2 linked regions of the Homo sapiens genome follow. The protein of the gene in region 1 interacts with the protein of each later gene in a biochemical or structural test. Each region holds a gene or a part of one and is shown on either strand. Other genes may lie near its edges.

Region 1 (15,250 bases):
ATCAAATCCATGATAATTTTAGAAGCTTAAAATTTTGCTCTTGAAAATTTTACTCTGCACATCAACGTGGTATCAATGTTGAACTTTGCATCTGCTTTCTAGCTACAAGCTTTTTTCTTCTAGGTCTTATAAAAAGGGTATATAAAGAAGTCACTTTCAACATTATGTCTATTATGCTGTTTTGTTTTGAAGGATTCACACACCATTGGTAGGGGTGAGGGACATAAGATATGCAGGCCCTCTCCATTAGATTCATGGATGTGTAAAGTTCTATTGCAGTTCATAACCTCATCAACTGACTTTTGGCCTAAGCAACGTCATAAAACTTCATTTCACCTTTAGAGCAAACCTTTCTCCTAGTACCTGGAGTTAAAAATAGTGCAAGCCATGCTGACCTGGGCTATTTTTATCTGGAAAATAGGGACTAGAAACAGTATAGCAAGCAAAGAAAGGCGAGTTTACCACAACAGGATTAAAACTCTCACACACTTTTTAAAAAGTCCCACTACAGTTTTAGAAATCGGATGGAAAGGTGGTAAAGCAGAGGTGAGGTACAGGGCAGAGGATCAGCTGAGGGCAGTTCACTGAGTGTTAGCAAGATATGACTAATACTGTACGTAACAAGCAATAATAAAAGTCCTCTGCCGAAGACAGAATAGTATAAAACCTTTCCTTCCCCTGCCCTTACAGATTTCTAGAGAAGATAATTTGGGAATAAAAGGTATAAAAGGTTTTTGAGAAAAGAGAGATCAAAGGACATTCAGAGTTCGGGAGGATATCTGGGAAGCAGACTTAGCTTAGATCCTAAAGGGTGTAGAAGATCTGCATTGCTGGGGAGGAGTGTGGGAGTGGTAAACCAGTCAAAGAATTCACAGATGTGCTGGGAGGAGGAGAAGGGGAGCAGAAGCAGGAAAACAGTCTGGCTGAAACACTGGTTGTATTTCAAAGAGCAGTAGCAAATCAGGGTGGATAAATGGTGTGGGCCTAAGCAGCTGGTGAGCATTAAATGTGTAAGAATCAAATTGTATCCTTAGCAAACCTCTGAAGATTTCTGAGTAAGATTTTTATGAGTGTTGGTAAATTTATATAGGATGCATATGGGTAGTACATGGAGAAAAATGAATTAAGGGGAAAAAAAGTGTGTAACAATCCAGATAGAAAGTGATTTTTAAAATTCTAATTAGAGCGGTGCAGTGGGAATTCAAATATAATACTTACTGAGTCCTCGACGCAAGATGCTGAGTACACCAATGTTGGAAATACAAGGGTTCTCGCCTCAAGTGGCTCACTATAGTAGAGGAAATGGGAATGGAAACCAGCCACAGTGAAGTATGCTATCACGGTGATGGGAAGTGCCAGAGGAACAGACAGGACAAAGTTGTAGCTCTGCTTAGAGAAATGAGGGCAAGAAGCAAGTTAGAGGACCTTCTCACCACTTTCCAAACGAAAGAAATGAGGAAATGCACAGCACTAGAAAATGAAGGTAGGTTCAGGGACCTGCAAACAGGTTCCTGTGGCTGGAACAGAAAGTATATGGTAGTGAAATGTTCTTTATAAAAAAGTAGCAATGGACAGAATGAACTAGAAAGATACAAAAAGAAAAAAAACAAACAAACAGGCTTTTGTAATAATCCAGGACAGCAATGAAGAGTGTAAATGGGAATGAGGAACAAGAGACTAATAGGAAATTAGTTTTAAATAAGCAAAATTTTCAAACTGATAAAGGAAAGTATGTTCTTCTAAAACATCATGCTGTTTCCAGACTTGGAGACTTTCAATAGACTTAACTCCAACTTAACCTTTAGAAGTCTTAGCCTAATTTCTTAAAAAAAAAAAAAAACAAAAAAAAACCTCTCCTGGCCTGCAGACCAAGTTAGGTCTCCTCTTGTGTGATCCCAATAGGATCCTGTACTTCCATCTCATAAACATAGCACTGGGAATTACAGGTTCAACATTGTATTTCCCTCACACAGTTAAGACTCCAGAAAGGCAGAGAGAATTACTTTGACCTGGGCACTGTGGTACCTTCAGTGCCTAACACAGATCAGACACTCAGTAAATAGCTGTTGAATAACTAAATGAAGTTCACAGGATCAATTTTAAATCTGTTCCTCCATCTCCCCCATCAGACAGGCTTACCAATCCTCATTCCTTCCAACAAGAGGAAACTTCAGTCTTAATCACATTGAGTTTGCAATACTTCCAGAAAATTCAGGTAGAAATGTCTGTCAGTCCTCTACAGATGCCAAAGTAAGAGACAGACGAAGGAATCTTTAACAAATCCTAATAGCTGAAGTCATGATTGTTGTTATTACTATTATTTGTTACAGTTACAGCTAATACTAATTGAGCACTGATTATCTGTTGAGTATTTCTTTATTTTCTCACCTGTCCTCAAATAGACCTATTGGATTAAGTACTGTTATTAACTCCTATCATACTGATGAGGAAATTAATGCTTTAGGTTAGAAAATGTGTCTAAAATCAGAGAGCAATTAAGTAGCAGAAGAGCTTCAACACAGGCAAACTAGTTTAAGAACTTGTGCTTCCATGAGCGCATAAGATAACCCAGGGGGAAAAAAAGTGTAGACTAGAGGGAAAAAAAGAGAAGACAAACCACAGATCATAAAGAATAGTAACATTTAAGGGGCAGACACTGCCAAGGAAGAACTGACGTAAGAACTGGTATTTATATTCTTGTATGATTCCTCACACATATGGAATGGAAAGTCACCTAATGACTTGCTTCTTGCAAAAGAATACAGCACAAGTGATGGGATGTCACTTCCATCATCAGATTACAAGACTGGGACTTCAGTCTTGCCAGCAGACACTATTGCCTTTTTGGCTTGCATACTTTATTGAAGAAAGCTGTCATGTTAGGGAAGCCCACGTGGCAAGAAACTGAAGCCCTCAGTCCAACAACCTGCCAAGAACTTAATGGTGCCAATAACCACTGAGTGAGGCTAGAAGCAGATCCCTCCCCATTCAAGCCTTAGAAGGAGACCACACACCCTGACCAATGTCCTGACTGCAGCCTGTGAGAAATAGTGAGGCAGAAGATGTAGCTAGACTGTGCCCAATTCCTTGTCTACAGAAAGTATGACATAACAAATGTGTGTTGTTTTAAGCTGCTAAACTTTGGAGTAATCTGTTATGTAGCAATAAATGACTACTACAAACTAAGAAGAAAAATCTAGAAATATAGATGTTCAAGTTCCTTCTACATACACATCTTCTGACAGTCATGAACAGAAAGTGAACTGAACTTTAGGAAAAAAAACTACCATTGTAAGTTGAGGAAAAAAAGAAAACTGAAAAATATAAGAAAAAACAACTGAAAGGATAAGACCCAGGCTAGTAAATGGGTAGCCAAAGATTTTAAAGGTGGGGTGGTTAATAGAGCTATTGCAGCAGTAAAAATATCTGGTCTAAGGGGTGGGGGGCGGGGAATCACTAAATTTTTTAGCTAAAAAGCAATTTTCAAGGCATCCATTTCAGAGTAGACCTAACAGAAATTGGTAGAAGACATCACACAGGTAAAATATGCCTTGAGATAGAATTAAAGGGTAATTATATAACAAAACTATAGAAGCCAAGCTCCTAGTCACCATTTATAGAGGAAAATTGGAAATATCAATATTAATAAGAAAAAATTCAGAGAGATGGTTAATATGGTTTGGCTCTGTCTCCTCACCCAAATCTCATATTGAATTATAATCCCCATTGTCAGGGGAGGGACCTGGTGGGAGGTGACTGGATCATGGTGACAGTTTCCCTCATGCTGTTCTCATGATAGTGAGTTCTCATGAGATCTTATGTTAAAAGTGTTTGACAATTCTCCCCGCCTCCTTCTGTCACGTAAGACATGCCTTGCTTCCCTTTTGCCTTCTGCCATAATTGTAAGTTTCCTGAGGCCTCCCCAGCCATGTGGAACTGTGAGTCAATTAAACTGCTTTTCTTTATAAATTACCCAGTCTCAGGTCTTCACAGCAGTGTGAAAACAGACAAACACAATGGTCAATCTTTTTATTCCCCAAACTTATGATTAGTCCTTTTCAATTTACTTCTTAGATTTGACATTTCCTATTAAGGTGTTATTACATAAAAATTAGCCTTAAACTGAATTGAGATGAGATTACAGCTTCCTGGGTTCTGGAGTTCATGTTTCATGTTTCTGGTTTTAATTTTTAAAAATTATTTCATACCTGACAATCTAATGTTTACCCATACTTTTGTGACCCTCTCTCACTTTAGAATCAAAAGCAAGGCTTCCTATGCTCAAAAGTCCTGGATAGTAGGCCGGGCACAGTGGCTCATGCCTGTAATCCCAGCACTTTGGGAGGCCTAGGTGGGCGGATCACGAGGTCAGGAGTTCAAGATCAGCCCGGCCAACATAATGAAACCCTGTCTCTACTAAACATACAAAAAAATTAGCCAGGTGTGGTGGTGGGCACCTGTAGTCCCAGCTACTCAGGAGGCTGAGGGAGGAGAATCACTTGAACCCAGAAGGCAGAGGTTGCAGGCAGAGGTTGCAGTGAACCAAGACCACGCCATTGCACTACAGCCTGGGTGACAGAGTGAGACTCCATCTCAAAAAAAAAAAAAAAAAAAAAAAAAAAAAAAAAAAAAAGGCCTGGATAGTATATTCTAATTTTAATAGTACCAGTATTATTTTATATTTGGTACTTTTATTTGCAATTCCAATGCCAGGCTCCACATCAAAGGGATGAAAGGCTCATACAACACTGATATCTTCACAGATCATCCAATACAGTCCCTAAGCTATCAGTAACTTTCTTCTTCTTCACTACTTTAGGAAGCTATCATATAGTCATGTGTATCATACAGTCATGTATTGATAAGTCAGTGGAACTATTTTTGATATTTTACGGTAATTCCATTCTTCCCAATTTTCTGTAACAGTTTTATTTTCAACAGTAGGTTTAAATGAAGATGTTTTATTTCTGACTTCATTTTGACATTGAATCTAAATCTATGCTTCCCTTATGTTGAACCATTCAATTTTCTCTAATGTTCCCCTAAAGTTCAAACTTCGTATATTTCTTTTTACGTGGATTCACAAGCCATCTTGAATGAGTGGTTCATGCAAGGAAGCACAGACATACTTATAGACAACACTAAAAGTGTTGCAAGGTTTCCTGCAATAATTCCTGAAGGCGGTTCCACTGGTAGAGCTGATACAAGCATACTGCACAGAGAAACCTTAAAACCTCTAGAGAAGAAAGGATGGGGCTAGAAGGTCAACAGTAGTAGTAGCTAGCACAGCCAATTTGAAGGAATGTGAAAATATAGAACATATAACTTTTTTCTTGTTGCTTGGCTGGGAAGTAAGTGTCAGCAAGCTATCATAAATGGCAACACTGAAAAAGTGGGGGCAAGAGAAGAAAAGCAGAAGACTTAGGTCAAAATAAAACAATAATTTCCTTCCAATCGCTCAAGCCAAAACCCTTTAAGTCATTCATGACTCTTCCATTCTTTCATACCCCACATCTAATGTATCAGCAAATCTCATTTGATTCTACTTTCAAAATATATCCAGAATATATCCTACACAAACTGATCTCATTTCCTATCCTACTACATCAATCACATATCCTTTACTCCTTCCACTAAAACCACAGTGGTTTCCTTGCTGTTTTCTGTTTCTTTTTTTGAGACAGAGTCTCACGCTGCTGCCCAGGTTGGAGTGCGGTGGCATCATCTTGGCTCACTGCAAGCTCCACCTCCTGGGTTCAAGTAATTCTCCTGCCTCAGCCTCCAGAGTAGCTGGGACTACAGGCGGATGTCATCACGCCTGGCTAATTTTTGTATTTTTAGTAGAGGTGAGGTTTCACCATGTTGGCCAGGCTGGTCTCGAACTCCTGACCTCAAGTGATCCGCCCACCTCGACCTCCCAAAGTGCCGTGCTTGCTGTTTTCTGAACACACCAAACACATTTCAAGTTAGGGCCTCTGTATTTGCTATTTAATACCATTCCTGAAAATGCTCCTCTTCCACATATCCACATAACTAATTTCCCACTTCATTCAAGTCACTATTTAAATGTCACCTTATTTTACCAATCTTATCTAAAAGAGTACTCCCTAGTCACTCTGTCCTTATCTTATTCTCCATCTTAATATTTACCACCTAACGTGCCATGTATTACTTGTACATCTGTTTATTGACTGTCCCTCCCCACCCCACACTTCCTCCAACTAGAAGATAAGGTCCATGAGAAGGGGGGCTTTTTGTTGTTATTCAGGACACCCTAGCTCCTAGAACAGGGCCTGTATGTGCAGGGTACTCAACATTTGTTGAATGAACAAATGAGTGAAAATAGTATCAAAACAGGACTCAGAAAATATAACAAAGGGTAAAGAGTACACGTATTTTGCTTTGGTAAAGAAATGGGACCTGGAACACTGAATAAGAAAAAAGAGAATTCCAAACTCATGAAAACTTTATGGGGATCTCAAGTCAACAGACACTGTCCAAGCTCTTCAGAAATGAAACTAATTCTGAATTGGTTATGGAAAAATGTGATTATGAAGTACAAAGGTGGCAGAAAAGTTGAGTTTTGACTACGAAATAAGGCATGAAATAAACTGTTGTAAGAGAAGATTTTGGTTAACCATCTATATCAATTTTTTTTTAGAAGAGATTTAGCTGAAATAAAAGGCAAAGACAAGCTCTGAAAATGGACTTAGTAAATTATCTGAATGCCATCATGTAGTCACAGACAATGTTCCAAGTGTGGAAACGAGGGCACAGTGGAAAAGAAGGTGGAATGTAAGCACAGAAGTAAAATCTAAGAAAAAGAAACTGCCCAAGAATGTGCTAGAATAAAAGGGAGACTGAAATAGTTGGGGTAGCTTTAAAGGCCTAAAGTGAAAAATTAAACAAAAACAACTAAGCTGACAACATCAATCCAAAGGCATATCAGAAAGGCACAGGCTTCAGAAAACATGGAAGAAGAACAAAGATTTCAAGCCTGATGGGAGAGAAAAGGGAAAGGAAAACAGGAGTAAACTGTCACTCAGAAACACAGAGTGGGAAGACAGCTCCTACTAAAGAAACAAGAGAGGGTAGGCCTACTTCAGGGCAAACGGCTTTAAATAGTATCAGAGGAAAGACAGATGGATAAAGAACATTTAAGAAAATTAGGTAGGAGAAAAATTTAAACTAGAATGTCAGATAAGCCAACATGTAGAATGACAGAAGCAAAAGGGAGAAGAAAGTCTCGAATGTTCAAGCATATTCTCAAAAATGGCAGAGGCCCAGTGCGATGGCTCATACCTGTAATCCCAGCACTTTTTTTTTTTTTTTTTTGAGACAGGCTCTCGCTGTCACCCAGGCTGGATGAAGTGCAGTGGTGCAATCACAGCTCACTGCAACCTCTACCTCCCAGGCTCAAGCGATCCTCCCACCTCAGCCCCTCAAGAAGCTGGGACTACAGACATGTGCCACCATGCCTGGTTAATTTTTGTATTGTTTTTAGAGATGGGTTTCACCACGTTGCCCCCTGGTCTGGAACTCCTGGGCTCAAGCAAATCCGCCCACCCTGGCCTCCCAAAGTGCTAGGATTACAGGCATGAGCCAGCACTTTGGGAGACCAAGGCAGGAGGATCATTTGAGGCCAACAGTTCTAGACCAGCCTAGACAACATAACGAGATCCCGTCTCTACAAAAAAATTTAAGAAATTATCCAGGTGTGGTGACACATGCCTGTAGTCCCAGCTACTACGGAGACTCAAGTGGGAGGATTGTTTGAGCCCAGGAGCTGGAGGCTGCAGTAAGCCATAATTGCACCACTGCACTCCAGCCTGGGCATGTTAGGCCCTGTCCTTTAAAAAAAAAAAAAAAAAAGCGTAAAATATGCCAAAATTAGTTAAGTAGAAATATGTATAAAGTTACAGATATGAATGAACTAAATCAAAGGTCTGTTGATTTTGTCACCAGCTCTATGACCTTGAAGAAGTTAATCTCTCTGGGACTTTTTTCTCTTAAAAAAATGTTATTTCTTCTCTTTTAAAAAAAAATGTGTAAATGCAGGAAAAGTGGTTAGGTAAAAAAATGGGTGATCATTCTAAGCCCTTTTTTCTCCAGTTTATCGGAGGGGAATGAGACAGGGAAAGCACAGAATTCTTAAAAGAATCAGAAAGATAGCAAATTTTTTAAATGGGAGAAGTAATAGTTAAGAACAGTTCTGCATAGCGCTTTACCATCTAAAAGGTGCTTTACATGAAACATTATATGTTCACCTCACAACAAGCCTGAGAAGCTAAAAACACAGGTATCACTGAACACCATTTTATAAACGGAGCAACTGACGACTCAAGAAATTAAGAAACTGGACTAAGGATACAGAAACCATAGCAGACCCAGGATCCAACCCAGATCTAATGGCAGAACCAAATCCATTATCTTTCTTTTTTTTTTTTTTGAGACGGAGTCTCGCTCTGTCGCCCGGGCTGGAGTGCAGTGGCACAATCCCGGCTCACTGCAATCTCTGCCTGCCGGGTTCAAGCGATTCTCCTACCTCAGCCTCCCAAGTAGCTGGGACTAAAAGGCATGCAACACTACACCCAGCTTATTTTTGTATTTTTAGTAAAGACAGGGTTTCACCATGTTGGTTGGCCAGGATGGTCTCAATCCCTCGACCTTGTGATCCACCCGCCTCAGCCTCCCAAAGTGCTGGGGTAACAGGCGTGAGCCACCGCACCTGGCCCCTTTCTTTCTTAATAATTTTTTTTTTAATAGAGATGAGGTATTGCCATGTTGCCCAGGCTGGTCTTGAATTCCTGGACTCAAGCTATCGTCCCACCTCAGCCTCCCAGAGTGTTGGGAATTACAGGGGTGAGTTACCACATCTGGCCCGGAATCCATTATCTTTCAAAGTTAAAATGATCTCTATTATCATCTCCTCCTCCTCCACGTAATTAAGGATTTGTGGGTATTTTTGTGGATTATTAGGTAGTAGATAAGTAAAGAGTTACATACATACAAAAAAAAAATTTTTTTTTTTTTTTTGAGATAGGGTTTTGTTCTATCACCTGGGCTCAAGCAATCATCCCACCTGAGACCATGGGCTCGCACCACCATGCCTGGCTAATTTTTTAATTTTTTTAGAGACAAAGTCTCACCATTTGCCCAAGCCAGTCTTGAACTCCTGGGCTCAAGCGATCCTCCTGCCTCAGCCCCTCAAAATGCTGGGATTATAGGCGTGAGCCACTAAAGCCCAGCCTAAAATAATCTTTTAACGTAAAATAAAATTCCTTTCGAACTAAAGGAGTTAGTTTACATGTAAACTACACATCAACTCACTACACAAAATGTTTTCACATATAGTTGATCACAATCTATTAAGACTACCCTCTCAGTCCACACGTCCCTTATAGCTGACAGAATTACTGCAGTTGTACTATTTTCAGCCTTTCTACATACAGAGTAACTCACTTTTAACTTAAATTCTGACATAGTTATAAAATCATTAAACAAGTAACTTCAATTTGTGTATCCTGGATCCCAAGCATACAAAGAGAATGGAAAAAGGAGATAAAGGTGTACTTATGTATTTAGGTTTAAATAACATAAGTTTATTTTCTCACAGTTCTACAAGCTGAAAGTCTGAGATCAGGATGCCAGCATGGTCTGGTACTGATGAGGGCTCTCTTCCTGGGTCAGTTTCGTTTTTAACATCTAAGAGGATTGTTCACCACATCTCTGTTAGTGATAATAAAACAGCTGCATTTTCCTCATCCTATTCTTTGCTCTAAAAGCCATAATCAGCCAGACCTAACTAATTAACTACAGTAATAGTGAAAAATCTTAGTAATATAATCTGCTGCTTATTAGTCCCAACCTATTTTATTACTCCTTTTCTTTATGTATGTTTTAACGGAACAGATGAAGTTTTGGATTAAATTCCAAAAATGTTATGTATATGATTCTAGTATTTCTATTTTAATGGGAAAATGTTTTCCTTCATAGTGGCGAAGAAACTCCAACAGAAAAGTTCAACATTTTCCCATGATCCTCACTCCTCTGCATTCCTCTTCCTCCTGTACCCCCAAGTCAAGGCACACTACTCTTCACAAAACAGCAGACCATGGTTTCTTTCTACTGCATATCATTGAGACTCTTCTTGATGAAAACAAGCATAAGCAAGGACATAGGATCAAAGGGCAGGGTAACGGCAAAAAGGAGAAAATCCCAAAAAGACCAGAGAAAGTGGAAACAGGAGCTTGGTTGTATCAGTGGCTACAATTACATTTCTGTTTTTCTCCTGTATGACTTCATTTTTCCCTTATGGTTCCTTTTTTAAAGTAGTTGCATAAACAGCGGCCAGATAAGCATGTTTGAAGTAGAAATTCAGGGGAAAACAAAGCCTACACTGAATGGGCCACAGACTATCATGTATCATCTGATTACCATGCCCTGACATAAAGAGCATGCAATATACATGATGTAAATAAAAAAGAACATCAGATTCTTAGTCAGAAAACCTGAATTTAAGTCCTAATATGCTGCAGAATTTCCAACAAGTGAACTAACTTTTCCTGAGTCCCACTTTTCTAATCTATAAAAAAAGGGATACAACCACCTGCCTACTGCTGTGAAAGTTGAAATGAGAAAAATACTACACATTTGCTGCATATAACTTTTAAAATCACTATAATGTTATGAAGGATAAAATTCTGAATTGAAGTCTCCCTCTGCAATCACATAAAAAAACCATATTCTGACATCTGTTAACAGTATACTGACAGGCGCATAATTCAGGTGGATAAATACAAAAGTGGCTTTTAAGCCACTATCTGAAATAAACATTGTACAGTCACCTAATAAAAAGTTTTACACAGCCCAACCATAGAGTATGATTACTCACATATAAAGCTAGTGCTATTCACCCACTTTCAACAAAATATATGTATCAAATTGCAGTTCCAGCAGTGTGCTAAATAATCTACATCTCATTTAATGTTCTACCTATAACTAGCGTAGTTAAAAAAGAGCATGGGTTTGATATCTGAATGACTTAAGTTTGAACACCAGCCAGGGTTATAGTAAGTGGTAGACCTCTGCCAAGTCTGAGCTGAAAATCCCTCAAATGTAAATTAGGAATAACACTACTCACTTCACAGAATTAAGATTATTGTGGCCAGGTGAGGTGGTTCAAGTCTGTAACCACAGTACTTTGGGAGGACAAGGCAGGAGGATCCCCTGAGCCGAGGAGTTCGAGATCAAATGATCAGCAAGACCCTGACTCTACAAAAAAAATTTTTTTTCATTTGGCCAAGTATGGTGGTGTGTGCCTACAGTCCCAGCTACTCGGAAGCTGAGATGGCAGGATAGCTTGAGTCCAGGAGGTGGAAGCTGCAGTGGGCCATGCTTACACCCTTGTACTCCAGCCAGGGCAACAAAGCAAGACCCTGTCTCCAAAAAAAAAAAAAAAAATACTCTGATTGTATCTGTATTGATCCTAATATGATGCCTAACACACTGTGGTTGGTTGCTCAATATACGGTGGGTGGTTATTTTGATTGCCTTCTCATTTCCACAAAGCAAACACCCTTGTTTTTTAGGAATAAATTACATGTTCAAACACGATTACCAAAACCTCTTTCAGCCAAGAAGTACAATGAAAGGAATTCCTGAATATCATTTATAGATCCTGAAGTTGCGTCCCTAAAATTAATATAAGCAGATCAAATCCAAAGAGTTTAAAGGTCATCCCTCCTTCATCCTGTCCCTTATTACCTGCTAATATGTACAGTTACGTGACTTAAAACCCCAACAACTAGAACTCTTGAGGAAGGAGGTACCTATTTCCTAATAGCATCTCTATGAGAAGCATTTGCTCTAAGAGCCAGGCTGTCTGCTGTCCCTTCTCTAAGGACAGGTGAAAGCAGGAAGACAAAAGAGAAAAGAGGTCTCAGCTTAACTTGGAAAGCTAAATTAACTAAGGAAAGCAGATCAAGAAAGATTTGGGACATCATCTTCTTCAAGAATCCAATTTAAGCTTATGTCCCAACTATATACTTTGGTCAGTCTTCACAGCCCTATTGTCTCAAACTAATTTCTTTCCTGCTCTGGAGCTCAGGACTTTATGTTCAGATGTGACAATTTCTTAAAGTTGTGCCCTGACAACTTTCTTAAAAATTTTATCAATGAAAATCTAGTGAAAGACCAACGCTGAAATTTCATCAGATCCCCCTTTTCCTTCCAGTTTAATATTATTCAACTGTTCCTTTTTAAGACTACAAGAAATTAAGACTTGTGCCTTCATCCAGCAATGAAGTGGCAATAGGTAAATTAGACTCCACATTGTATTTTTCCCCACAAAATGTTCACGTTTATAACTTTCTCACTGCCTATGTTCAGTCTTTCGGGCAGCCTGAGAATCACATGTAATGACTGTCAAAGTAGATGATCTGACACACACATACAGAAAAACCACTAGTTAGAGTCAGCGTGTGTGTACAAACATGCAACTGTGATGCTCTCCCAGGTCAATCTCTCAAAACCCACAAAATCAGAGACTGATGGTGGAGGAGGGTGGCCTGGGAGCAGCCACAAAGAAAAGATCAAGATCTGAGAAGTAAAATGAAAAAGAGCTGCAAGAGAGTTGGTTAAGGACGAAAGAGTCTACTGTTTATCATGAGGGAGGAAAGAGGGAATAGACTAGGTAAGAAGTGAAGAAATCTGTGGAGGAAAAACCGCAATAGTAAAGAGAAAACAAAAAGATCTCACCAAATTGGGAGGATAAAACGAGCCCTCCTGCGCCAATTCCGTGTTGTTGTTTTGTTTTGTTTTGTTTTCCAGGAAGTTACAAAACAGTTTTCAACAGAAGGATTACATTAACAAAGCAAATAAAGGAAACTGGTGCTAAAAATGTAGCCTACCTACACTGAGAGGCCTGAAGACGGAAATACTTCTTTCCCCTTTTTGTAACGGGTTTCAAAACAGTAGGAACAGGGTGAGGGATAAGAGCTATAACAGGGGGAGGGGAGTAGCCAAGCTCTTCCTGAATACAGAGTCTTTCGACTAAATGCTTATTTTAAATGTACCTTTTTGCGGTCAGCCGGCAAATTCCTAACTGAACACAGCGTTTGACTCTCAATCGAAATGTGATGAGTGGTTCAGACACCATAGGAAATTTAACAGCTTATGCAAACACAAGGCAGATGCAGAACCAGGACTTGCTTTGGGTGGTACTCTAACACCCCTTCACTGGGTGGCTAAAACGCCACTAAGGTTTGAATTGTGACCAATAGTGGAATGGAAAAAAGAAAATAGGAAAGTTAAAGCGCCTACGTTGAGTCAAAAAACCATGCAATTAGCCGGAGAAGTTTGTGAACGGGCAGTAAGTGGAAAACAGTGGATACAAAGGGGCTAACTAGATAAACAGCTACTACAAATTCTGTCCGTCTTCCTTACGGGGAGCTACACAAGAAAGAGCGAGTCCCTTCTATATAGAGGAATGCTGCTTCTCAGCCTAGGCAGTTTCAGTCGCAGGCAGGGGCTGCCCGCCGAGAAGGGCCTGTCCAGCACAAACCCGCAGCACACACTTACTTTCGTCCGGCCATTGATTTTGTAGCTGCCCAGCTTCCCGTTACAGTGGCGTATCAGGTCGTCCATGCTGCTCATGAGCAGCCCAATGGTTTCGCAGCCGGGCTCCTTGCCCTCGATCCAGGTGATCTTATCGCCTCGGATGTCCTTGGACGAGTCACTCTTCTGGCTGACCAGCTGCCCGTCCGTGAACTTCCCGGTGTCGTGCAGGGCGCGCACCTCGTCGCCGATCTGCTGTCCGGTCTCCTTGCCGAGGAAGTCGTCCACCACACAGATGCCGTGCTTGTTCATGCACGGCACGATGTACTCGAGCGCCAGCTTCAGCGCCGGCAGGGGCTTCGTCTGCCCGTTGGGCCGCAGGCCGCCGCCGGGGCTCAGCGCATCCCCGGGCGTGTTGCTTGGGGGGTACAGGTTCGCCTTCTCCTGGAACAGCGATGAGCGGGCCGGCGGCTCCTCCTTGCCGGGCTCGGCTTCGGCAGCCACCGCCGAGCCCTGGCCGCCGGCGGCCGCACGACACGGCGACGCGGCCGCCGCTGGGTCGGCCGGGGGCTTGGCCTTTACTTTTCCCTTGGCCGCGTCCCCGGAGGCGTTGTCCCGGCGCGCCGCTGCCTTCCTGGGCTCCCGGGCCCCGGCCCTGGGCGGCGGCACTGCAGCCGGCGGCGCGGGGCCGGAATGCTGGTGTGGGCCCACTCCGTGGCCGAGGGCGCCCTCGCTGCCCTGGCACACGAGCTTGTGCTTCTTCCAGTCCTGACGCTGGTGCTCCTTGCAGCAGTAGAAGGAGCTGCGGCAGCGGCTGCAGCGCAGCAGGTTCTCCATCTTCCCGCACAGCTCGCAGTACTGCCGGTCTCGCTCGCTCGGGCTCGGCCCGCCGGGCCCGCCGCTGTCATTGGCCATGGCGGCGGCGGCGGCGGCGACGGCGACTGCGGCGGCCGAGCAGGAGGGGTAGCGGCCGGACGGCCTCGCCCGAGGCTGGGGAGCGGGGAGAGAGATAGGGGCCGTTACTGCGCCATGCACCCGCTACCCTCGCCTCAGGGAGGCCGGCACCCCACGCCCTCGGCCCGGCCGCTTCCGAGTCCTAAGCTCCGGCGCAGCGCCGGCAGCCGCCTCAGCGCCTCATCGCCGCCGAGGGCTGAGAGAATAGGGCCTGTGCGGCGAATGGCAACCTGGGCTCAGGCGCGCGGGCCTGGGGAGCGCAAGACCGGCCCCCTCGGCCGCCGCCGCCGCCTCAGCGTCCCGGGCGGCCCGGCCCAGGCTGTGGAGGAGCGCAGGGCATACGGGCGCCACTCGCTCTGCGCGCTCTGCACGTACACCACGGCCCCGCGGCGACCCGGGCGGGCGGCGCGCGAGGGCGGAGGGGGCGGAGGGAGGGCCGGGAGGGCCGGGGGGAGGGCCGAGGGGCGGGGGCTGCCTGCGCTCCTCCGCACTCGGCGGGGCCGGGCCTCGGCTTCTGCCTCGGAGGTGGGTCGCCCGCTTTCCCTCCGCCCGGGACCGGACTGGGACGCCGAGAGGCCGGTGCGCTACCTCAGCCCGCAGCGGCCTCCTCGGGGACGCCGAGGCGCAGGCCCGCGAGCGGCGGAAAGGCGTGGGGCAGCGCGGCAGCGCCTACACCTGCTGGAGGAGGGCGCCAGCCGCAAGCGGGTAGCGGAGCGAAGGCGGCGTAATCATGGCTGCT
Region 2 (15,250 bases), on another chromosome or scaffold:
ATAATTTTCTCTTCTTGTACTTACCTTGTTTTTGTATAAAGTTGCATTCACTTCATAAAATATCTTGAGGAGCTTCCCTCTTTTTCTGCTCTGTGGAGCAGTTTGCTAAGATAGAGATTATTCTTCAAAGGTTAGGTAGGGTCGGGTGTGGTGGCTCATGCCTGTAATCCCAACACTTTGGGAGGCCAAGGCAGGAAGATTTCTTGAGCCTAGGAGCCCAGCCTGAGCAACATAGTGAGACTCCTGTCTCTCAAAAAAAAAGTTTTAAATTAGCCTGATGTGGTGGTGTACACCTGTAGTCCCAGTTACTTGGGAGGCTGAAGCAGGAGGATTGCTTTAGTTGGAGAGGTTGAGGCTGTTAGGAGCTGTTATCACGCCACTGGACTCCAGCCTGGGTGACAGAGCATGACTCTCTGAAAAAAAAAAAAAAAAAAAAAAAGTTTAGATAAAATAAATCCTCCCCATCCCCACAATATGCTACAAAACCGGTATATTGGGGGGATCGTTGTTGCTACTGATTTAATTTATTTAAAGATTATAAGACTTTTTTGGTTTGCTGCATCATGAAGCTTTAATAAAGTATAATTTCATAGGCCATTATTCATTTGTCTAAATTTTCAAATGTATTAGTATAAAATTACAGATTTTTTTGTTTTTTAATAATCTCTTTTTGTAAATATATCCTCTTTTGCATTCCTAATATTGACTTTGCCTTTTCTCTTTTTTCTTGATCTATGTTGCCAGAGGCTTGTCTAGTTTATTAGTCCAATAACCACCTTTTGGTTTTGTTTATCCTCTCTGTTGTTCATTTAGTATTTCACTAACATTGTATTAGTCCATTCTCACATTGTTATAAAGAAATACCTGTGACTGGGCAATTTATAAAGAAAAGAGGTTTAATTGTCTCACAGTTGTGCTGGCCATACAGGAAGCATAGCAGCCTCTACTTCTGAGGAGGATTTAGGAAGCTTCCAATCATGGTGAAAGGCAAGTGGGGAGCCAGAGTCTCACATGGTGGAAGCAGGAGCAAAAGAGAGAGGGGGGACATGCCACAACCAGATCTCTTGAGAACTCACTCACTGTCACGAGAAAGCACCAAGGGGATGGTGCTTTATGCTCCACTATGCCCAGCTAATTTTTTTATTTTTAGTAGAGACGGGGTTTCTTCATGTTGGTCAGGCTGGTCTCGAACTCCTGACCTCAGGTGATCCACCTGCCTTGGCTTCCTAAAGTGCTGGGATTACAGGCGTGAGCCACCGTGTCCCGCCACATGTTCGTTATTTTATCTTTGTTATTTCCTTCCTTCTCCTTTCTTTGTGTTATTCTGATTTCTTTTTTTTCTAACAACTTGAATTTTTTTTAACATTAAAAAATTCTGGCCAGGCATGGTAGCTCATGCCCTATAATCCTAGCATTTTGGGAGGCCAAGGTGGGAGGATCACTTGAGGCTAGGAGTTTGAGACCAGCCTAGGCAACACAGTGAGACCCTGTCTCTATGGAAAAAAAAAAAAAATTAGCCAGGTGTGGTGGCACGTGCCTGTGGTCCCAGCTACTTGGGAGGCTGAGTTGGGAGGATCTCTTCAACCCAGGAGGTCAAGGCTACAGTGAGCTATGAACACACCACTGCACTCCAGCTTGGTGACAGAGCAAGACATCATCTCAAATTTTTTAAATAAAAAATTCTATATTAAATTTTCTGAATAGGCATAATCACATTCACATAACTCAACTATAGAAATGCTTAAAAGGTATACAGAGAAAAGTATTAACACATCTTGTCCCTCATTAGCCTCTTTCCATCCTTAAAGAAAGGTAACCATTGTTAATTTCTTTATATACTCTGAGATTTTTTTAAATGCACATATAAGCATATATCTTTGCACTCTTTCCAAATCAATATATATATAAAACCTTACTTGGGCCAGGTGTGGTGGCTCATGCCTGTAATCCTAGCACTTTGGGAAGTGGAGGCAGGAGGATCGCTTGAGGCCAGTAGTTTGAGACCAGCCTAGCCAACGTAGTGAGATCCCATCTCTACAAAAAAATATTTAGCCAGGTGTGGTAGTGTGTGCCTGTGGTCCCAGCTGCTCAGGAGGCTGATAAGGGAGGATCTTTTCAGCCCAGGAGGTCAAGGTTGCAGTGAGCTATTGTCATACCATTGCACTCCAGCCTGAGCAAAAGAGTGACACTGTCTCAAAAAAAAAAAAAAAGTCATCCTTATTCCTGCATATAGTTTCTGTTATTCTGTTATATAGTTGTATCATTTTTTATCTAAATGGTTCCCTGTTGATGGACATTTAGCTTGCTTTAAATCTTTTATTAACACACAAGTGCTGCACTGAATAATCTTGTACTTACAGAGGATATGTAAATTGAGTTCCTGGAAGTAAGTTTGTGTAGTTTTGCTATGTGCTGCAGTAAGTTTGTGTAATTTTGCTACGTGCTGCGAAATCACTCTGCTTAGGTAAATTACTTTCCCTCCAACAACGTATGGGAATGCTGATTTCCCTATAGCCGTGCCAACCTGGTATATTTTTAAACTTTTGGATTTTGGCCAATCATCAGGTAGGCATCAGAGAAAGAATGATTTCTTAGTGTGGTTTTAATTTGCATTTCTCTTAAGAAAAAAATGTCTAATTTTCCTCATTTAAGGGTTTTCTCTACTCCCTTCTTTACTCTTTTCTTTCAGCTGTCCAAATTCTTTGCTCGTTTTCCTAATGGCTTGCTGGTCTTTTTCTTGTCAATTTATAAGAACTCTATATAGTAGAGATATTGTCCTTTTGTCTGTGATGTGAGTTGCAAATATTTTTATAACTTCTTCAGCGAAATGCTTTTCAATCTGTCTTCTCTCTTAATTATACACTTAAAGCTCTACATTTCACTCTGAGTACTATTTTGGTTGCATCCCTCAAATTTTAGTATGTGGTGTTTCCATTTTCATTATGGTTTCTACGTGCTTCTGAACTTATTTAGAATTATGCTTAATATATTTCTAAACAAATGTGTTTTGCTTTGTTGTTTTTATATGATTGCTATTGGTTTCTAATTTTATGCCATTGTGTCAGTGATTCTTTTGGTGATTGCTGAGACTTTCTTTTTGATGAATTTTTAAAAAATTGTATGTTTGCGCTTGAAAGCATGTCTTTTCTCCAATTAAGCAGTTCAAGATGCTCACCGTATTGTTCAGATTTTCTACAATTTTATGTTGAGTTGACTAGTGATCATTTAAAGAACTCTGTTAATATTCCCACTGTGATGGTGGATTTGGCAATTTTGTTAATTTTTTATTTATATGTTTTAAGGCTATGTTTAATTTTGAAATTAAATAATTTATAGGTTTTCTAATGTTGCACCAACTTTGCATTCCTGAAATGAACCAAATGTGGTCATATATATTATCCCTGACGATCCCTTTTTTTTTTTGTTATTACTTTTTTTTTGAGACAGAGTCTCACTATGTCACCCAGGCTGGAGTGCAGTGGCATGATCTCGGCTCACTGCAACCTCTGCCTCCCAGGTTCAAGAGATTCTCGTGCGTCAGCCTCCCAGGTAGCTGGAATTATAGGCGTGTGCCACCATGCCCAGCTAATTTTTGTATTTCTAGTAGAGATGGGGTTTCGCCATGTTGGCCAGGCTGGTCTCAAACTCCTGACCTCAAGTGATCCGCTCACCTTGGCCTCCTGAAGTGCTGGGATTACAGGCGTGAGCCACCCGCACCTGGCTGTGGGTAGATTTTTAACTACTGATTCATTTTCTGAAGTAGTTTTAGGAATATTCAAAGTTTTCTGTTTCTACTTGGGACAGTTTAAGTTTTCTTTTCAGGAGTTCATTTCATCTAACTTTTAAGATTTATTGGCATAAAGTTCATTGTATTCTTCTATCTTTTTAATCTCTGTGGCATCTGTAATTAGGTTCCTCTTTTCATTCCTCATGGGTTATTTTTGCATCACTAATTTGTTACTGGTCAGTCACATCAGAGGTTAGTCAGTTTTACTAGTTTTTTCAAAGAAACAATTTTTGGCTCTGTTGAGCTTCTCTGTTGTATTTGTTTTCTATTAATTTCTACTCTAATCTTTATTTTCCTTCCTTCTACTTTTCTGGGTTTATTTTACTGTTTGTTCAACTTCTTGAAATGAATGCCTAGCTCATTCATTTTCAGCTTTTCCTCTTTTATATCTCATAAATTTGTCTCCAACCATCTATATATCTCTGACAAGTTTTTAATGGCTATTTTAAATTCCTTATCTAATTATTAAATAGATAATACTTTCCCATGATACAAAACCCAGAAAGTATTATTTAAAAGGTATGTAATGAAATATTTCCCACCTGGTCATGGTGGCTCATGCCTGTAATCCCAGCACTTTGGGAGGCCGAGGCAGGCGGACCACCTGAGGTCAGGAGTTCAAGACCAGCTTGGCCCATATGGTGAAACCCTGTCTCTACTAAAAATACAAAAATTACAGGGTGTGGTGAGGCATGTCTGTAGTCCCAGCTACTCAGGAGGCTGAGGCAGGAGAATCGCTTGAACCCAGGAGGCAGAGGTTGCAGTGAGCCGAGATCACACCACTATGCTCCAGCCTGGGTGACTGAGCAAGACTCCGTCTCAAAAAAAAAAAAAAAAAAAAAAAGAGAAAAATATTTCCTCCCATACTTGTCTCTCATCTGCTCATTTCCCATTCTCTCCCCGCCATCCCTGCTCCAGCCCCACAGGTTAACCCTGGTCTTAGTTTTGCATGTATCCTTCCAGCCTTTTTGTGTGATTACAAACAATTATGAATGGAGATTCTTATTTCCTTTCCCCTTTATTTATAAACAATATATAGTAAATTAAACACACTGTTCTATACCTTGCTTTTATTTCCCTGGACAATAAACCTTAGAGAGATCTTTCAATGGCAGTATATCTTTTTTTTTTTTTTTTTTTTTTTTTTGAGACGGAGTCTTGCTCTGTTACCCAGGCTGGAGTGCAGTGGCGCGATCTCTGCTCACTGCAACCTCCACCTCCCGGGTTCAAGGGATTCACCTGCCTCAGCCTCCCGAGTAGCTGGGACTACAGGTGTGCGCCACCACACCCAGCTAATTTTTGTATTGTTAGTAGAGATGGAGTTTCACCATGTTGACCAGGATGGCCTTGATCTCTTGACCTCGTGATCTGCCCTCCTTGGCCTCCCAAAGTGCTGGGATTATAGGCATGAGCCACCATGCCTGGCCCTTTTTTGTTTTTATAGCTGCATAAAATTCCATTGTGTGTTCCATCATTTTGTCACCATTATTCTACTGGTTGAAATAGTTCCACCCCCAATTCTTTTGTTGTCACAAATGATTATTACATTGTACATATATGCATGTGTAAATATATCTTACATATAATTGGGCTGGGCACAGTGGCTAATGCCAATATTCCCAACACTTTGGGAGGCTGAGGAGAGAGGATCACTTGAGCCCAGGAGTTTGAGACCAGCCTGGGCAACAGAGCAAGACCCTGCATCTATTAAAAAAGAAGAAAAAGAAAGTAAGCAAAAAAAGCATAATTGCCAGGTGCAAGTTATGGATATTTAAAGATTGTCTTTTTTAAACTTTTTATTACAGAAACTTAAAAACATATATAAACTCCCTACAAAGGTGTATCTGTGGTTCCCTGTCTTTGGACACATAGGATGGTATTCCTGTTCTCTATTTCATTTATTTTTGTCCTAGTCTGTAGTCTTTCCCTCTGCTGGCTCTTGGTTTAGTGTGTTCTTCTTTTTCTAGTTTCTTAAGATAGAAGGGTAGATTATGGAGTCAAGATTTTGTTTTTAAAAAATTGATGTTTATAGCTATGAATTTCCCTCTAAGCACTACTTCAGCTGCATCCTGTAAGTTTGGATATGTTATGTCTTCATTTTCGTTCATTTTTGAGGTATTTTATAGTTTTCTTTTGATTTTTTTCCTTTAACTCACTGGTTACTTAATGAGTATATTGTTTAATTTCTACATATTTCTGAATTTCCAAATTTTTTTCCTCATTCATTTCTAATTTTATTCCATTATGGTCAGAGAACACACTTTGTGTGACTTAAATTCTTAATTCTTTGAATATATTTATTAATATAATGGCTACTTTTAACTCTTTGTGAGATCCAACATCTGGGCCCTCTCACAGGTGGTTTCTGTTGCCTGCATATTTTCCTATATATGTTTCATACTTTACTGTTTCTGCATGTTTCATAATTGTTGAAAATCAGACATTTTAGATAGTATGTTGTAGTAACTCCAGATAGAAATTCCTGCCCTCCACCCCATGGCTTTTGTTTGTTCATTTGTTCAGTGACTTGGCTGCACTACTTGCATTCAGTCTCCCCCTCACAACATGAAGCCTCTAGTGTCTCTTCTCAGAGTGCACGGTCTTGGCCCTGCACACAGCCACACTAGATGACAGTGGTTTCAGCAGGCTTTTTGACTGTTTCTTTCATGAATTTGTTAAGCCATCTGCCTCTGCTGGTATCACCCCCAGCTGTTAGGCTCCATTCATTGCCAACTAATTGCTTTATTGTTTTTGACATGTGGGGCATAAGTTGTTCCATAGTTTAGTCCAGTTAATTGTGGGCCCCTTTGTCGGGCTAGTTTTTGAGGGCAATATATAGGTTTGTTCTGAGTCCAGGACGGCTCTCAGTTGCCCTTTCCCTGGTTCTCTCTGTTAAACTAGCTGTCCCAAGGTTTAGCCTGTTGCTATCATGGAGCAATCAGCCTCCTTTTAATTGCCTCCTGCCAAAATCTCTACATTTTTGAAGTGCCTATAGGCTTGAATTTCCCCATACTCTGTTTCATATTAAGTCAGGTCCTTTGGAGAATGTTTTGGAGCCCTGTATTCTTACGGACTGCCTCTCCCCCTGGGCAAAATCCCCGAGGCCCTGCTCTGGAGTTGGGGTCAGGAATAATGGCTTGCTTCACTTGGAAGGACATTCCTGCTTTATGAGCAGGGAGCTAGGCAGGGATGACAACCTCTGCTCTCTCGGTTTGCATCTCCTTTTGTGAAACCTCCACTCTCTGAGCAAGCTTCCGTGAGGGCAATCAGGGCCCCGATACTTTTGTCCCACTGCACTTGAGGTAAAGCCTCTGCCCTGTGGGTGGGGCTGAGTGGAGGAAGGGAGCCCTTGATCTTTTTCAGGAATTTAGTTGCTGTATCTTGGAGCTGGTGGCCCTCCTGGTAAAATACCATATATCATATCTCATGACTGGATGTTGAGAGAATAGGAAGTCCCTCCCCCTCCACCGCCCCACCCCACTTTTTTTTTTTTTTTTTTTAACTACGCTTACCTGCTGGAGTGGAGCTTTAGTCTAACTGAGCTGTGGGGTAGGGGTTTGGGGCATAGATTGAGGGAGCATGTCATGGTTCAAGTGCTGCAAATTCTCACTATTCAAGATTTAGTAGCTGGGCATGGTGGCTCACACCTGTAATACCAGCACTTTGGGTGGGAGGATTGCTTGAGCCCTGGAAAGCCTGGACAACATAGCGGGACCCTGTCTCTACAAAAAAATTTGTAAAAATTAGTTGGATATGGTGGCACACACCTGTAGTCCTACCTTGGGAGGTTGAAGTGGGAAGATTGCTTGGACCTAGGAGGTTGAGGCTTCAGTGAGCTGTGATCATGCCACTGCACTCCAGCCTGGGTGACACAGTGAGACCCTGTCTGAAAAAAAAAAAAAGATTTAGTAGATTTTCTTGAGTAAACATTTCTTCATTTGTTATATGTCCTTAGGAAAATTTCCAAAGAGTTTAAATGCTTTATGTTTGTTTGTTTGTTTGTATTGAGACAGAGTTTCACTCTTGTTGCCCAGGCTGGAGTGCAATGGTGCGATCTCGGCTCACCGCAACCTTGGCCTCCCAGGTTCAAGCAATTCTCCTGCCTCAGCCTCCCGAGTAGCTGGGATTACAGGCATGTGCCACAAGGCTGGCTAATTTTGTATTTTTAGTAGAGATGGGGTTTCTCCATGTTGGTCAGGCTTGTCTCGAATTCCTGACCTCAGGTGATCCACCTGCCTCGGCCTCCCAAAGTGCTGGGATTACAGGTGTGAGCCACCGCGCCCAGCCATGCTTTGTGTTTTTAAATTTTCATCAGTAATGGAGTTTCCCTGTGGAGTGTGCGAAATCCCTCATGCTGCCATTTCAGAAGTAGGACCGCTCCCACTTTTTGTTTTTGAGACAAGGTCTTGCTTTCCACACGGGTTGGAATGCAGTGTGGCATGATCATAGCTCACTGTAACTTTGAACTCCTGGGCTTAAGGGATCTTCCTGCCTCAGTCTCCCAAGTTGCTAAGACTACAGGTGCACACCACCACACCTCGCTAATTTTTAAAAATTTTTTGTGGAGATGAGTCTCACTATGTTGCCAAGGCTGGTCTTGAATTTTTGGCATCAAGCCATCCTCCTGCCTTGGCCTCCCAAAGTGTTGGGATTACAGGTGTGAACCACCAGCCTCTCTTACTTTTAATAGTTATTTTAGAAATTAGAATATTGCATGCTTAATTTATCAAAGGCCAATCAATCTCTTTACCCTCTTTCTGAATGATATAAGAATCTTAGAATTGTTTGAAGTTTTTTACCATATGCACATATATAAAAATTACATATTTATATACAAATATATATACACTTTAAAAAAAATACAGGCCAGGCCTTGTGGCTCATGCCTGTAACCCCAGCACTTTGGGAGGCCAAGGTGGGTGGATCACCTGAGGTCAGGAGTTCAAGACCAGCTGGGCTAACATGGTGAAACCCTGTCTCTACAAAAATACAAAAATTAGCCAGGCATGATGGCAGGTGCCTGTAATCCCAGCTCCTCGGGAGGCTGAGGCCGGAGAATCGCTTGAACCCAGGAGGCGGAGGTTGCAGTGAGCTGAGATCATGCCATTGCACTCCAGCCTGGATGACAGAGTGAGACTCCATCTCAAAAATAATAATAATAATAATAATACATATATGAAGCAAATAAAAGTATATATATACACACACACAATATTTATACAAAACAAGAATATGAAACATAAATTGGTTACCTACAGTTAAGCTGCCTGAATTCAGTTCCTGTTTTTACCACTTAAAGGCTGGTCAACCTGAACAAGTGCCTTAACTGCACCACACCTGTTTCTTGAGGCACGAAGTTGAGAAACCAATATCGCCTCACTGGGTCTTTGTGATAAGTGAGCCAATTTATGTAAAGTGCCATATGCACAGTGTATGCACAATGCTTGACAGATAATCAGTGCTTAGTAAAAGACACCTGCTCTAATAACTAAAGCAAATTATTGTTGGTGATTAAGTGTATTCATCCTTTCTGTCCTGGCAGTTCCTCTGTGACGAGGGTGCAGGTATCTCTGGGGACTACATCGATCGCGTGGACGAGCCCTTGTCCTGCTCTTATGTGCTGACCATTCGCACTCCTCGGCTCTGCCCCCACCCTCTCCTCCGGCCCCCACCCAGTGCTGCACCGCAGGCCATCCTCTGTCACCCTTCCCTACAGCCTGAGGAGTACATGGCCTACGTTCAGAGGCAAGCCGGTGAGTAATTAGAGAAGGAGGAGAAGACGGGGAGATACGGGGGCAGGGGGTGGCAAAAGATCAAGTATTGAATAGCTGGAGGAATGTGTTCCTGGCCTGCTTGCATGCTGTTTCTCAGTAGACTCAAAGCAGTATGGAGATAAAATCATAGAGGAGCTGCAAGATCTAGGCCCCCAAGTGTGGAGTGAGACCAAGTCTGGGGTGGCACCCCAAAAGATGGCAGGTAGGACCTTGTTTCACCTGTTCCGTGAAACTCACTTCCATTTCTTCCCTTCCCCTGATCTTACTGTCCTGACTGACTGGTGGGGTGGGGGGGGGTGGAAAAGTACCATGGGCCCTCCTCCCTTGGTGATAGAGGAGGGGAAGGGACCCCATCCTATTTGCTCCCTTCTGTCTCACCCCTCCTGTCAGATCAGTCTCTCCCTGTTCTCTGTACCCTAGGTGCGAGCCCGACCAAGGATGACAGTAAGGACTCAGATTTCTGGAAGATGCTTAATGAGCCAGAGGACCAGGCCCCAGGAGGGGAGGAGGTGCCGGCTGAGGTGAGACCAGCTGCCTCAGAGGAGCAGGATGGGGATGGGGAGGGTCACTGCAGCTGGGGCCATTGTGAGGTGACCTACATCTACCTAGGGATGCAAGGATATCCCCAGAACCTTTGCCTTCATAGTATGGAGGGCATGAACAGGCTTTCATACTTGACTCTCTCCTTTTCTCCTCGTCAGGAGCAGGACCCAAGCCCTGAGGCAGCAGATTCAGCTTCTGGTGCTCCCAATGGTGAGTGAACCTTCCATGTCTCCTTTACTGAATATATTTTAGGATTGGCAGGGGTAGGGATGGAGGGGAGAGCTAAGCCTGGGAGGGAGGTTGGGTAGCCAGGCCGGCAGAAAATTCATTTTTATAGGAGTTAATACTCTTTGTAGACAGCACTGCTATTTTAGCAAGGTGGCAGAACACAGTGGCTCCACCACTTGGTGACTTTGTAATTCACTTAACCTCAATTTTCTTACCCATAAAATGAGGGTAATAACCCCTACCTTAGAGGGTTGCATGGGATTAAATGAGAATGCATCCATAATTCACAGTAGAAGGCCTGGAACTGAATAAACTAAATGGTTAATATTTGTGGAAAGAGGAGAAGGGTTCCAGGGAAGACAAGCCCTTAGCCCCAGGATCTCCTCTGTAGTCCTAAAAGCTAGAGTGACTGCCAGAAGGGCCTCAGAAGTGCATGGAAGAGTGGGGACTTAGCAGCTTGTTAGCATCCATCTCTCCTACCAGAGTGTCCACCTTAGGATGGTGCTCTCTGCAGGCGAATATTTGCCCTTGTCTCACTGTCAAACAGGTAAATCCTAGAGGCAGGGACCATGTCCTTCCTTGGTCTCTCATTACCTGTCCTTAGGAATCCAGAGAGAATTTAGGAGCGCAGTAGCGCACACCTGTAATCCTAGTTACTTGGAAGGCTGATGCAGGAAGATTGCTTGAGCCCAGGAGTTCAAGATCATCTTGGGCAACATAGTAACACACCATGTTGAAAAAGAAAAAGAGCCGGGCGTGGTGGCTCATGCCTGTAATCCCAGCACTTTGGGAGGCTGAGGCAGGTGGATCACCTGAGGTCAAGAGTTCAAGACAAACCTGGCCAACATGGTGAAACCCCATCTCTACTAAAAATACAAAAATTAGCTGGGTGTGGTGGCAGGCGCCTGTAATCCCAGCTACTTGGGAGGCTGAGGCAGGAGAATCTCTTGAACCCGGGAGGCAGAGGTTGCAGTGAGCAGAGATTGCACCACTGTGCTCCAGCTTGGGTGACAGTGCAAGACTCTGTCTCAAAAAAAAAAAAAAAAAAAAAAAAAAAGAATTTAAACACAACAGAACAGGTTCATGATTATTATTCTTTCATCTCAGATTTTCAGAACAACGTGCAGGTCAAAGTCATTCGAAGCCCTGCGGATTTGATTCGATTCATAGAGGAGCTGAAAGGTGGAACAAAAAAGGTATAGGCCGTGCTTAGGGAATGGGTAGAACCCACCTCCCAACTGCGAGCATTTGAAAAACTACCCTGACCTGGGACTCAACTCCTGGGTCCCCCAGTACCACACACCTGCTACTGTTTGTCTGCCCCCGACCATGTGTCTCTGTTGAAACCCCAACTGTCTTTCTCCCCACTCCCTACCCACCCAGGGGAAGCCAAATATAGGCCAAGAGCAGCCTGTGGATGATGCTGCAGAAGTCCCTCAGAGGGAACCAGAGAAGGAAAGGGGTGATCCAGAACGGCAGAGAGAGATGGAAGAAGAGGAGGATGAGGATGAGGATGAGGATGAAGATGAGGATGAACGGCAGTTACTGGGAGAATTTGAGAAGGAACTGGAAGGGATCCTGCTTCCGTCAGACCGAGACCGGCTCCGTTCGGAGGTGAAGGCTGGCATGGAGCGGGAACTGGAAAACATCATCCAGGAGGCAAGCCCAGCTCTTCCTCCTGTTGCTTCCACAGCCGCCTGGTCCCGTGGAGCAGGACAGGCTGACGGGCTAAAAGAAACAGAGGGCACAGCACAGGGCAAGGACGGGGCACTTGGAAGTGGTAGCTGTTTCCCTAATTAATCGGGGCTGTTGGGGAAGGGGGACCAGAGAGAGGGACAAGACTTAAATATCAGACTCTCTGGCCAGGCGCGGTGGCTCACGCCTGTAATCCCAGCACTTTGGGAGGCCGAGGTGAGCGGATCACCTGAGGTCAGGAGTTCAAGACCAGCCTGGCCAACATGGCGAAACCCTCTCTACTAAAAATGCAAACAAATTGGCCAGGCATGGCAGTGGGTACCTGTAATCCCAGCTCTTTGGAAGGCTGAGGCAAGAGAATCGCTCGAACCCGGGAGGCGGAGGTTGCAGTGAGCCGAGACGGCACCACTGTACTCCAGCCTGGGTGATAAGCAAAACTCCATTTCAAAATATCAGACTCTCCTACAGAGCCCAGCCCGCTGGCTGCCTCCACACCCCAGACCCTTGACTCACTCTCTTCTCTTGGGTATTCCAGACAGAGAAAGAGCTGGACCCAGATGGGCTGAAGAAGGAGTCAGAGCGGGATCGGGCAATGCTGGCTCTCACATCCACTCTCAACAAACTCATCAAAAGACTGGAGGAAAAACAGAGTCCAGAGCTGGTGAAGAAGCACAAGAAAAAGAGGGTTGTCCCCAAAAAGCCTCCCCCATCACCCCAACCTACAGGTGAGAGCAGTCAGACAAGAAAGAGTAGCCCAGTCTGTTGTTTTCATCCCTCAGCTGGTTCTGTTCCCAGAGGGGACCCTGTTCCTTCCCTTCTGAGGGTGCTCATTCTCTCCCCACTTTCTGGAACACTGTCCTCACTTGCGCCTGCTTCCCAACACCATCATCCCTTTGCGTGTTTACCTCCTATTCATCCCTCTGGGAAGCAGCTTTTAGAGCATATCTGCTGGTTTTCTGGTTTGCTCCTGTACACCCAGTGCCTAGCACTCTGCCTGGCACACAATGGATGATCAGTAGCTAGTAATTGAATGCTTGTGAGTCTATATGCTGAAAACCACTTTAGGACTTTGCACCAAGAGAGGCCCCAGCTGTCAGGGCATGAATAGGAGAGCCCAGCTGCACATGAGCCAATAGCTTGGATAGACTTTAAATTATTTCTTCTTCTTGTATCCCCTTGTGTCCATTTCATAGTGTCCTATGGGTGTGGACATCAGATATTCTAAATGGAATGTTCCAGTTTCAAACCTTCCATTCCCACTCTCTCTATAAACATTGAAATGTCTTTAAAGTCCCAACATATGGAGGAGGAGACCACACTTTTCCAACCTGCTTCTTCAAACAGAACTTTGTTGGTGCAGGTGGCCTGATTTTGGCTTTAGAAAACATTTGTTTTCCTATAGGTGACGGGCAGAATTATTGGGTAGGGCGGGAAGATGGAAGGCTGCAATTGGTGGAGGGAGCTCTACAGGCTGAACTGGGAGGGGCGGGGCACACATTTTTTTGAGCCCTGGCTCATATACATGTTGAGATGGAAGAGCTGCCAAAGCCAACTGATGTTTTAGGGGGAGATGACCCCCACACCCCTAACCCTGGAGTCACGCCTCTGCTTTGTGTTTCCCTGTGTGTCTCCCCCTCTAAGAGGAGGATCCTGAGCACAGAGTCCGGGTCCGGGTCACCAAGCTCCGTCTCGGAGGCCCTAATCAGGATCTGACTGTCCTCGAGATGAAACGGGAAAACCCACAGCTGAAACAAATCGAGGGGCTGGTGAAGGAGCTGCTGGAGAGGGAGGGACTCACAGCTGCAGGTGGGCCCTGGAGGGCGGCTGGACCCAGTGCTGTCGGAAGGGCAAGCTGCCGGAAGTGGAGGGGCTGGGACCAGTGGGGCAGGGGGCCTGCCCTGAGGCTCCCAACCATCCTCTCCTCTCACTGCATACTGCTCCTTTCCAGGGAAAATTGAGATCAAAATTGTCCGCCCATGGGCTGAAGGGACTGAAGAGGGTGCACGTTGGCTGACTGATGAGGACACGAGAAACCTCAAGGAGATCTTCTTCAATATCTTGGTAAGAGGCTTCTACCCCCGAGTCCTGGCCCCCAGCCCTCCTGGAGTGGAGGTGCGGGCTTGCCCCAGCCACGCCATTGCTGAGCTTCCATTTCCTGATCTGTAAGACAAGGCTGGGGTTCCAGTGGCTCAGAGTGCTGCCATGCAGGAAGAGCCCCTCAGGACATGGGTGTCCTCATTCCCTGCCTTCCCCCAGCTGCCTGGCCCAGGACTTCCCTGGGCTCAACGGCCAGTAGCTCCAGCCCACCTCTACCCTCTCCCACCAGGTGCCGGGAGCTGAAGAGGCCCAGAAGGAACGCCAGCGGCAGAAAGAGCTGGAGAGCAATTACCGCCGGGTGTGGGGCTCTCCAGGTGGGGAGGGCACAGGGGACCTGGACGAATTTGACTTCTGAGACCAACACTACACTTGACCCTTCACGGAATCCAGACTCTTCCTGGACTGGCTTGCCTCCTCCCCACCTCCCCACCCTGGAACCCCTGAGGGCCAAACAGCAGAGTGGAGCTGAGCTGTGGACCTCTCGGGCAACTCTGTGGGTGTGGGGGCCCTGGGTGAATGCTGCTGCCCCTGCTGGCAGCCACCTTGAGACCTCACCGGGCCTGTGATATTTGCTCTCCTGAACTCTCACTCAATCCTCTTCCTCTCCTCTGTGGCTTTTCCTGTTATTGTCCCCTAATGATAGGATATTCCCTGCTGCCTACCTGGAGATTCAGTAGGATCTTTTGAGTGGAGGTGGGTAGAGAGAGCAAGGAGGGCAGGACACTTAGCAGGCACTGAGCAAGCAGGCCCCCACCTGCCCTTAGTGATGTTTGGAGTCGTTTTACCCTCTTCTATTGAATTGCCTTGGGATTTCCTTCTCCCTTTCCCTGCCCACCCTGTCCCCTACAATTTGTGCTTCTGAGTTGAGGAGCCTTCACCTCTGTTGCTGAGGAAATGGTAGAATGCTGCCTATCACCTCCAGCACAATCCCAGTGAAAAAGGTGTGAAGCACCCACCATGTTCTTGAACAATCAGGTTTCTAAATAAACAACTGGACCATCAATCCATCAACCTTTTTTGTGGGGTGGGGGTTCCAGCAGGGAGAAGGCTCAGTGTTCTTTTCAGATCATGCTCTGATCCTGTTCTTTGCTCCCCATTCCCCAGGTACTATAAACGGGGGCTGGGG

What was found.
Region 2: the proteins of EGLN1 (region 1) and OS9 form a complex in vitro, tested with the Homo sapiens proteins (one study listed by BioGRID).

What each region holds. Positions count from the first base shown.
Region 1 is NC_000001.11:231,407,417-231,422,666, forward strand, and holds the start of EGLN1 (egl nine homolog 1), read right to left. Parts: upstream 14,872-15,250; 5' UTR 14,473-14,871; coding exon 13,582-14,472; intron 1-13,581. UniProt on the Homo sapiens protein: Cellular oxygen sensor that catalyzes, under normoxic conditions, the post-translational formation of 4-hydroxyproline in hypoxia-inducible factor (HIF) alpha proteins.
Region 2 is NC_000012.12:57,706,431-57,721,680, forward strand, and holds the end of OS9 (protein OS-9 isoform 1 precursor), read left to right. Parts: intron 1-9,329; coding exon 9,330-9,540; intron 9,541-9,658; coding exon of another isoform or gene 9,659-9,661; coding exon 9,662-9,763; intron 9,764-9,981; coding exon 9,982-10,082; intron 10,083-10,262; coding exon 10,263-10,314; intron 10,315-11,439; coding exon 11,440-11,528; intron 11,529-11,715; coding exon 11,716-11,991; intron 11,992-12,562; coding exon 12,563-12,752; intron 12,753-13,668; coding exon 13,669-13,833; intron 13,834-13,975; coding exon 13,976-14,088; intron 14,089-14,353; coding exon 14,354-14,479; 3' UTR 14,480-15,127; downstream 15,128-15,250. UniProt on the Homo sapiens protein: Lectin component of the HRD1 complex, which functions in endoplasmic reticulum (ER) quality control and ER-associated degradation (ERAD).